Linked DNA regions of Homo sapiens. The protein of the gene in region 1 purifies or fractionates together with the protein of each later gene. This does not show direct contact. Each region holds a gene or a part of one and is shown in the gene's direction. Other genes may lie near its edges. The genes, in order: APOBEC3G and MOV10.

The links.
Region 2: the proteins of APOBEC3G (region 1) and MOV10 purify together in Homo sapiens (affinity purification with western blotting, with the first as the bait; one study listed by BioGRID). This does not show direct contact.

Annotation. Positions count from the first base shown.
Region 1 is NC_000022.11:39,083,683-39,087,491, forward strand, and holds part of APOBEC3G (DNA dC->dU-editing enzyme APOBEC-3G), read left to right. Parts: intron 1-48; coding exon 49-202; intron 203-2,596; coding exon 2,597-2,885; intron 2,886-3,328; coding exon 3,329-3,444; intron 3,445-3,724; coding exon 3,725-3,739; 3' UTR 3,740-3,809.
Region 2 is NC_000001.11:112,691,531-112,695,339, forward strand, and holds part of MOV10 (helicase MOV-10), read left to right. Parts: intron 1-134; coding exon 135-269; intron 270-1,230; coding exon 1,231-1,399; intron 1,400-2,487; coding exon 2,488-2,642; intron 2,643-2,922; coding exon 2,923-3,099; intron 3,100-3,218; coding exon 3,219-3,366; intron 3,367-3,809.

The DNA of each region.
Region 1 (3,809 bases):
CAGACCAGGAGGGCTCTTACTCCTCTGGGCTTTTCCCCCACTTTCCAGACACTCGATGGATCCACCCACATTCACTTTCAACTTTAACAATGAACCTTGGGTCAGAGGACGGCATGAGACTTACCTGTGTTATGAGGTGGAGCGCATGCACAATGACACCTGGGTCCTGCTGAACCAGCGCAGGGGCTTTCTATGCAACCAGGTGACCAACCCAGCCACCCGCATCCAGGCAGGGCCCTCCCAACCCAGGGACACCCATGGGCAGAAGGTTCTGGGTGGTACCTGTGGTGTCCTGCAGAGTGTCTGTCACCTGTGCTTCCTGTAGCTGCTGCTGCTTGGCCCTGGGGTTGGGGGAGACTTCGGCTTCAGTGACTCTCCAGGATTGGTGGCTTCCAGCCCCACACGCCTAACCAGCCACATGTCTCAGGGGCTAACACCACTAGTCCAGAGTCACCCCCAGGTCCAGGTCTCAGCCGTCCCCACTCCTGCTGTGCTCTGAGAGGGTCAGGGCAGAGGAAAAGGGTCTGCACCAGGGCCAAGTGGGATCAAAGAAAAAGCGCTTCCGGCCGGGCACGGTGGCTCATGCCTGTAATCCCAGCACTTTGGGAGGCCGAGGCTGGCGATCACAAGGTCAGGAGATCAAGACCATCCTGGCTAACACGGTGAAACCCCATCTCTATTAAAAATACAAAAAATTAGCCAGGTGTGGTGGCAGGCGCCTGTAGTCCCAGCTATTCAGGAGACTGAGGCAGGAGAATGGCATGAACCTGGGAGGCAGAGCTTGCAGTGAGCCAAGATCGTGCCACTGCACTCCACCTGGGCAACAGAGCGAGACTCCGTCTCAAGAAAAAAAAAAAAAGTGCTTCCTGAGGACCCTCCCAGGATCCCCTCACAGACACAGCTCCCACCAGGAATGATTCAGAACTGTGGGATTTGAGGATCAGGGCCTACCTGACCTCACAAGGCCAGGATTCCCCAGTGCCTGCTCCTGGGCTTCATCCTGCGGGAAAAGAGACTGAGGCAGGAGAGGCCGACCAGGGATTCTGTCCTGACCAGGATGGAGCCCACAGCAAGGCCAGAACAGGCCCCAAGTCAGGATGCAGGGATGGCCAGCATTTGAAGAAGAGCTGGGCCAGGCCAGGCCGAGGGGCCCTGAGCCCGAGGGACGTTCTTCCCTCGCCCTTGCCCAGCACAGCCCCTGGCTGGAGAGGCCAAATTCTGCTTGGCTCTGGTGCTGGAAACGGGGTTCCTCTGGGCTCTATGAGCTTAATATGGGCCCTGCTGGGCCCACACACACTGCTTGGAAGCTACTTTCAAAGGCACCGGTCCCCATCACTGTCTAACCAGTGGGATGGGACTCCCCCAGGAATGACCCACAGCCCCTTCTCAGCACAAATCGTGTCATCCATTCTACCCCGAGTCCTCTCTGCACTGGACTCCTGGGCTTGACTAGTTCCCAGTCGAAATTTGGACAAAACACCATCATTCCTTGGGCTCAACAAGGACAATCACCCCATGACTGGGGCCCTTCCCAATGTGGGGTTAGTCCTGCTGGGGGCCCCTCATCCCCACTTCTCCCTGCAAAGGGAGCCCTCTGGCCTCAGTCTATGTCACTCGTGGGCTTAATACAGGGTAAAGCACAATGTGGAAGCTTCTAGAATTATAGGTCACAGAAGGGGTGGGGCAAGGGGAATTGACGGGTAGACAGGTCAGCCTCCCCATGAGGGAAGCACACGCAGCTCAGTGGCATCTGTCCTCCCTCCCCCAGCTCTACAGCCCCTCCCTGCAGGCCTGGGGCGGAGTGAGGGTCCTGAAGGCACTGACCTCATGTGCAGAATGAGAGGATGCTCCAAATACTCAGTATCAGAGAAATCTCATCGTAATGGAAAATTAAATTATTTAATAGATTATTGTAAAAATCCGGTCAGGTGTGGTGGCTCATGCCTGTAGTCTCAGCACTTTGGGAGGCTGAGGCGGGCAGATCACTTGAGGTCAGGAGTTCAAGACAAGCCTGGCCAATATGGTGAAACCCCGTCTCTACTGAAAATACAAAGATTAGCCAGGCGTGGTGGTGCATGCCTGCAGTCCCAGTTACTGGGGAGGCTGAGACACCAGAATCGCTTGAACCCGGGAGGTGGAGGTTGCAGTGAGCCAAGATGGCGCCACTGCACTCCAGCCTGAGTGACAGAACCAGACTCTGTCTCAAAGAAAAGAAAGGAAAAGAAAAGAAAAGTCATCTTGATAACTGGGGTTTGGTGCCCCCGTCTAATTTTGTGCTGGAGGCTGCCCCGCACCCACCCTGATCCAGGCTGTCCCTCCTGACTCACTAAAAATTCCCTCGGCCGGGCGCTGTGGCTCATGCCTGTAATCCCAGCACTTTGGGAGGCTGAGGAGGGCAGATCACCTGAGGTTGGGAGTTTGAGACCAGCCTGAACCACATGGAGAAACCCCTTTTCTACTAGAAATACAAAATTAGCCTGGTGTGGTGGTGCATGCCTGTAATCCTAGCTACTTGTACACTCCAGCCTGGGCAACAAGAGTGAAACTCTGTCTCAAAAAAAAAAAAGATTACCTCATGGCTTGCTTTCTTTTCTAGGCTCCACATAAACACGGTTTCCTTGAAGGCCGCCATGCAGAGCTGTGCTTCCTGGACGTGATTCCCTTTTGGAAGCTGGACCTGGACCAGGACTACAGGGTTACCTGCTTCACCTCCTGGAGCCCCTGCTTCAGCTGTGCCCAGGAAATGGCTAAATTCATTTCAAAAAACAAACACGTGAGCCTGTGCATCTTCACTGCCCGCATCTATGATGATCAAGGAAGATGTCAGGAGGGGCTGCGCACCCTGGCCGAGGCTGGGGCCAAAATTTCAATAATGACATACAGTGGTGAGAATGGAAGCCTGGAGTAGGATGGGGTCAGCCAGGGCAGGAGAGGGCCCCGGGAAGTTACTAGAAAGTGGGGAGGGTCGGCATCCCTGTGGGAAAGGCCTTGATCCTCTGCCTGCAGAGGCGATGGCTGCACTCTGGACCTGACTTTGGGGTCGACGGGAAGAGAGAGGCCAGGCCAGGAGATGTGGACCTGGGGAGGGCGGGGAGGGTGGCTGGAAGTGGAAGCAGAACTTGGGGCTTCCAGAAAAAATGAGAACTGGGCTGGCCCAGATTCCAATAGGAAAGAAGTGCCTGATGAAGGAGCTAAGTCCCTAGGGGAGGGAGAGGGAAAGGAGGGACTGAAACCAGGATGTGGGAAGTCTGTCTTGAGAGTCATGGGCCTTTGGTGCCACCACGATCCCACAGCGGGAGTGTGACTTATCTCCCCTGTCCCTTTTCAGAATTTAAGCACTGCTGGGACACCTTTGTGGACCACCAGGGATGTCCCTTCCAGCCCTGGGATGGACTAGATGAGCACAGCCAAGACCTGAGTGGGAGGCTGCGGGCCATTCTCCAGGTGAGGGCTTCTTCCCTCTGCCCAGTGCCCCATCGGCCTCCCCCTCCTCCCCTCTCCCCTGCGCCGTGCCTTCCCCTCTGCTCAGAGCCTCCTCTGGGTTCCCTGCTCCCCCAGGGCACCTGTCTCTGTCCCTCCCTTTCCTTCTCACAGCCTCCCTTTCTCTCCCACCTCCCACATCCCTCCCTCCTCTCCGATCATTGTCACTGTCCCCAGGCCTCCACCATATGCCTACTTTCCACTCGCTCACCCTTTGCTCCATTCAACCTCCCTGCTCTTCCAGAATCAGGAAAACTGAAGGATGGGCCTCAGTCTCTAAGGAAGGCAGAGACCTGGGTTGAGCCTCAGAATAAAAGATCTTCTTCCAA
Region 2 (3,809 bases), on another chromosome or scaffold:
CCCTTGGAGCGAGGCTGCTGACTTCCCTTCAGCAGTAGGATTGCAGGAGGGCTTTGTGCATCCACCCCAGAGGGGCGTTCTCAGAGTGTTGGAGGGTGAGGGGTTTTCTGTGTTTTCTTCCCTCGATTCTGCAGCGCTAAGGGCTATGACCTGGAGTTAAGTATGGCGCTGGGGACATACTACCCACCTCCCCGCCTCAGGCAGCTGCTCCCCATGCTTCTTCAGGGAACAAGTATCTTCACTGCCCCTAAGGAGATCGCAGAGATCAAGTAAGTACCATCCCTCTGCACCCCGCACTCTCCCGTCTTTTACCTACTGGCTTCTTTGCATTGCCCTGGCACCTCCGTCCTCAGCCTCCCAGGCTGTATTCATTCATTCCCTTACTGAGCACGCACCATACACCAAGCACCATTCAAGGTGAACCAGTCAAATGAAGGCCTGGCTCATTTTAATGGGGGACAATGAGCATTTTTGTTACAATTTCATGGAGTGATGAGTGCTGTGAAGAACTAAACAGGTCAGGTGTAAGTGGCTCATGCCTGTAATCTCAGCACTTTGGGAGGCCGAGGCAGGTGGATCATTTAAGCCCAAGAGTTCAAGACCAGCCTGGGGCAACATAGTGAGATTCTGTCTCTACAAAAAAAAATTTTAATTAGCCAAGTGTGGTGGCACATGTCTGTAGTCCCAGCTACTTGTGAGGCAGAGGTGGGAGAATTTCTTGAGCCCAGGAGGTTGAGGACACAGTGAGTGAGCCCAGATCATGCCACTGCACTCCAGCATGGGTGACAGAGCAAGATCTTGTCTCTAAAAAAGATGAACAGAACTATACTGAAACTAAAGCAGGGTTAGGGAATGGGTTGGTGCTGCTTTGCAGAAGGCCAGTTAGTCCTGGCCTGTTTGAGGTAGTGATGTTTGAACAGAGAAGGACATTTGAATGAGGTGAGGGTGGGAGTCATGAGAGGATTGGAGGAGAATGTTCTGGCCATAAGAGCCACCATGCAAATGCAAGTCGGGTGAGGTGGGGGCAGGGGCATCCAAGGAAGCAGGAGCCAAGGCTTCCTTCTTCAGGGCCTCTGACTCTCATCCACTTCTGTATCCCTCTAGTCTTCTCTGCTTTTTGACGCTAGTTCCAGAGCTTCAGGTGGGAGAAGGTGGATACTCCTGGGCATAGGGGTTGTCTGGCCCATCCTGTTCCTGCCCCCACTCACCCCTCCCAACCATCATTTCCAGGGCCCAGCTGGAGACAGCCCTGAAGTGGAGGAACTATGAGGTGAAGCTGCGGCTGCTGCTGCACCTGGAGGAACTGCAGATGGAGCATGATATCCGGCACTATGACCTGGAGTCGGTGCCCATGACCTGGGACCCTGTGGACCAGAACCCCAGGCTGCTCACGCTGGAGGTCAGGGCTCAGATTGAGTGTGAGGAGGGTGGGCTCAAGCCAGCCAAGCTAGAGGCTGTGGGCAGAACTATTCCTGACAGCAGGGCAGAACAAGAGGAAAGTTGAAGTGGTTCCCAGGGCTCCGCAAGAAGCAGGGTGGGCATCCTGTGCCCAAAGATGTGTTGGAGCAGGGAAATGGGGAAGATCTGGGTTCTAGTCCAGGCTTTGCTACCACCTTGGGTAAGTCCCTGGCTTTCTCTAAGCCTTAGTTCCCTTATCTGAAAAGCACAGAGCTGGACTGGATAATTCTTAGAGCTCTTTCTGGCTCTTGGATTTTCAATGTGTGCATATAAGCCCAAAATTACACACGAGAATGGATTTCTACACACAATTGCAGGTGGGAATTAGAGGGTGAGTTTGTTCAAGGAAAGATTACTGCAGGAAGTGAGTTTTGAACAAGTTTTTTGTTGTTGTTGTTTTTGTTTTGAGACAGGGTCTCACCCTGGTGCTCAGGCTGGAGTGCAATGGCATGATCTTGGCTCGCTTTAATCCCCGCCGCCCGGGCTCAAGTGATCCTCCCAAGTAGCTGGGACCACAGACATGCCCCACTACGCCTGGCTAATTTTTGTATTTTTTGTAGAGATGGGGTTTTGCCACATTGGCCAGGCTGGTCTCGCAACACCTGGACTCAAGTGATCCGCCTGCCTCAGTCTCCCAAAGTGCTGGGATTACAGGCGTGAGCCACCATGCCTGGTCCGTTTTTTTTTTTTTTTTTTTTTAATTATTTTTTTAGCAACCCGATTAACTGATGAACAGGATTTTTATAGGCAGAGCAGGAACTGAGCTGGCCAAGAGGGCAGCTGCACTGGAGGCTCCGGGTTCCTGGGCTCGGCATCTCTGGGCAGCTTCGGAGGATTTGTCTTCTTCCTCTTCCCCTGACTCCTGCTGGTATGAAAGGAAAGAGGGGTGCAGGGATAGCATAACTCCCTGAGTCTTAGGTTAGAAGGCCAGTCTCAGTCCTTGTCCCTTAAAGGTCTGGGGAACCTGGGGGCTGGGCCCTCCAGCGTCCATCCCTGGGACAGAAGCTTGCTTGTGTTCACACCCCATAGGTTCCTGGAGTGACTGAGAGCCGCCCCTCAGTGCTACGGGGCGACCACCTGTTTGCCCTTTTGTCCTCGGAGACACACCAGGAGGACCCCATCACATATAAGGGCTTTGTGCACAAGGTGGAATTGGACCGTGTCAAGCTGAGCTTTTCCATGAGGTGGGTGTTGGGGGAACCCTGAGCTGCTGGAAGGGTCTACAGACTTCTGACCCCAGGGGAGGAGGAGTGTTTCTCCCTGAGATAAATGAGACCCCGGGGCAGAGCAGGAGACTTTTCCTCAGGGGTACCCTGAGATGCTACGGCAGCTTCCTCTTCTAGAGAACTTGCATAGAGGTCTTGGAAAGAGGGGTTGGGACACTGGTTGGTGGAGAAAGTTCTGGCCCTTTATTGCCCACCTCCCCTGCCCCAACAAACTCTTACCACCTCTCTCTGCCCAAAGCCTCCTGAGCCGCTTTGTGGATGGGCTGACCTTCAAGGTGAACTTTACCTTCAACCGCCAGCCGCTGCGAGTCCAGCACCGTGCCCTGGAGCTGACAGGGCGCTGGCTGCTGTGGCCCATGCTCTTTCCTGTGGCACCTCGGGACGTCCCGCTGCTGCCCTCAGATGTGAAACTCAAGTGAGACTGTGGGCAGGGAGCTTCTGGAGCCACTTGGAGTGTGGGCACAGGGGGTGGAGTCAGGGAGGCCTCTGGGTCACTGGATGACTTCAAGTTCACATTCCTGGTCCCTCTGCCAGGCTGTACGACCGGAGTCTGGAGTCAAACCCAGAGCAGCTGCAGGCCATGAGGCACATTGTTACGGGCACCACCCGTCCAGCCCCCTACATCATCTTTGGGCCTCCAGGCACCGGCAAGACTGTCACGTTAGTGGAGGCAATTAAGCAGGTGGGGTCTGAGCACAAACCTGGGGCCTGCACTCTGATTCCCCCAGCACCAAGCAGTTGTCCCCAGATTCTAGTTCCTTCCCACTCCCGAAATGCTCCTGCTTCTAAGCAGCCATCAGAAAGAGAGGTAGGGGCCGGGTGCAGTGGCTCATGCCTGTAATCTCAGCACTTGGGGAAGACTAGCCCAAGGAGTTCAAGACCAGCCTGGACAATATTGCAAGACCCTATCTCTATGAAAAATATGAAAAATAGCTGGGCACTTGAGGCTGCAGTGCGATTGTGCCACTGCACTCCATCCTGGGTGACAGAGTGAGACTCTGTCTCAAAAAAAAGGGTGGGGATTGGGGAAGTGGGAAGTTAGGGTAAATGTGGCTGTGGAGCACTGTTGTACGGGTAGGGCACTGCATGAATCTTGGAGTCACCATTCACATTTCAGTCATCATA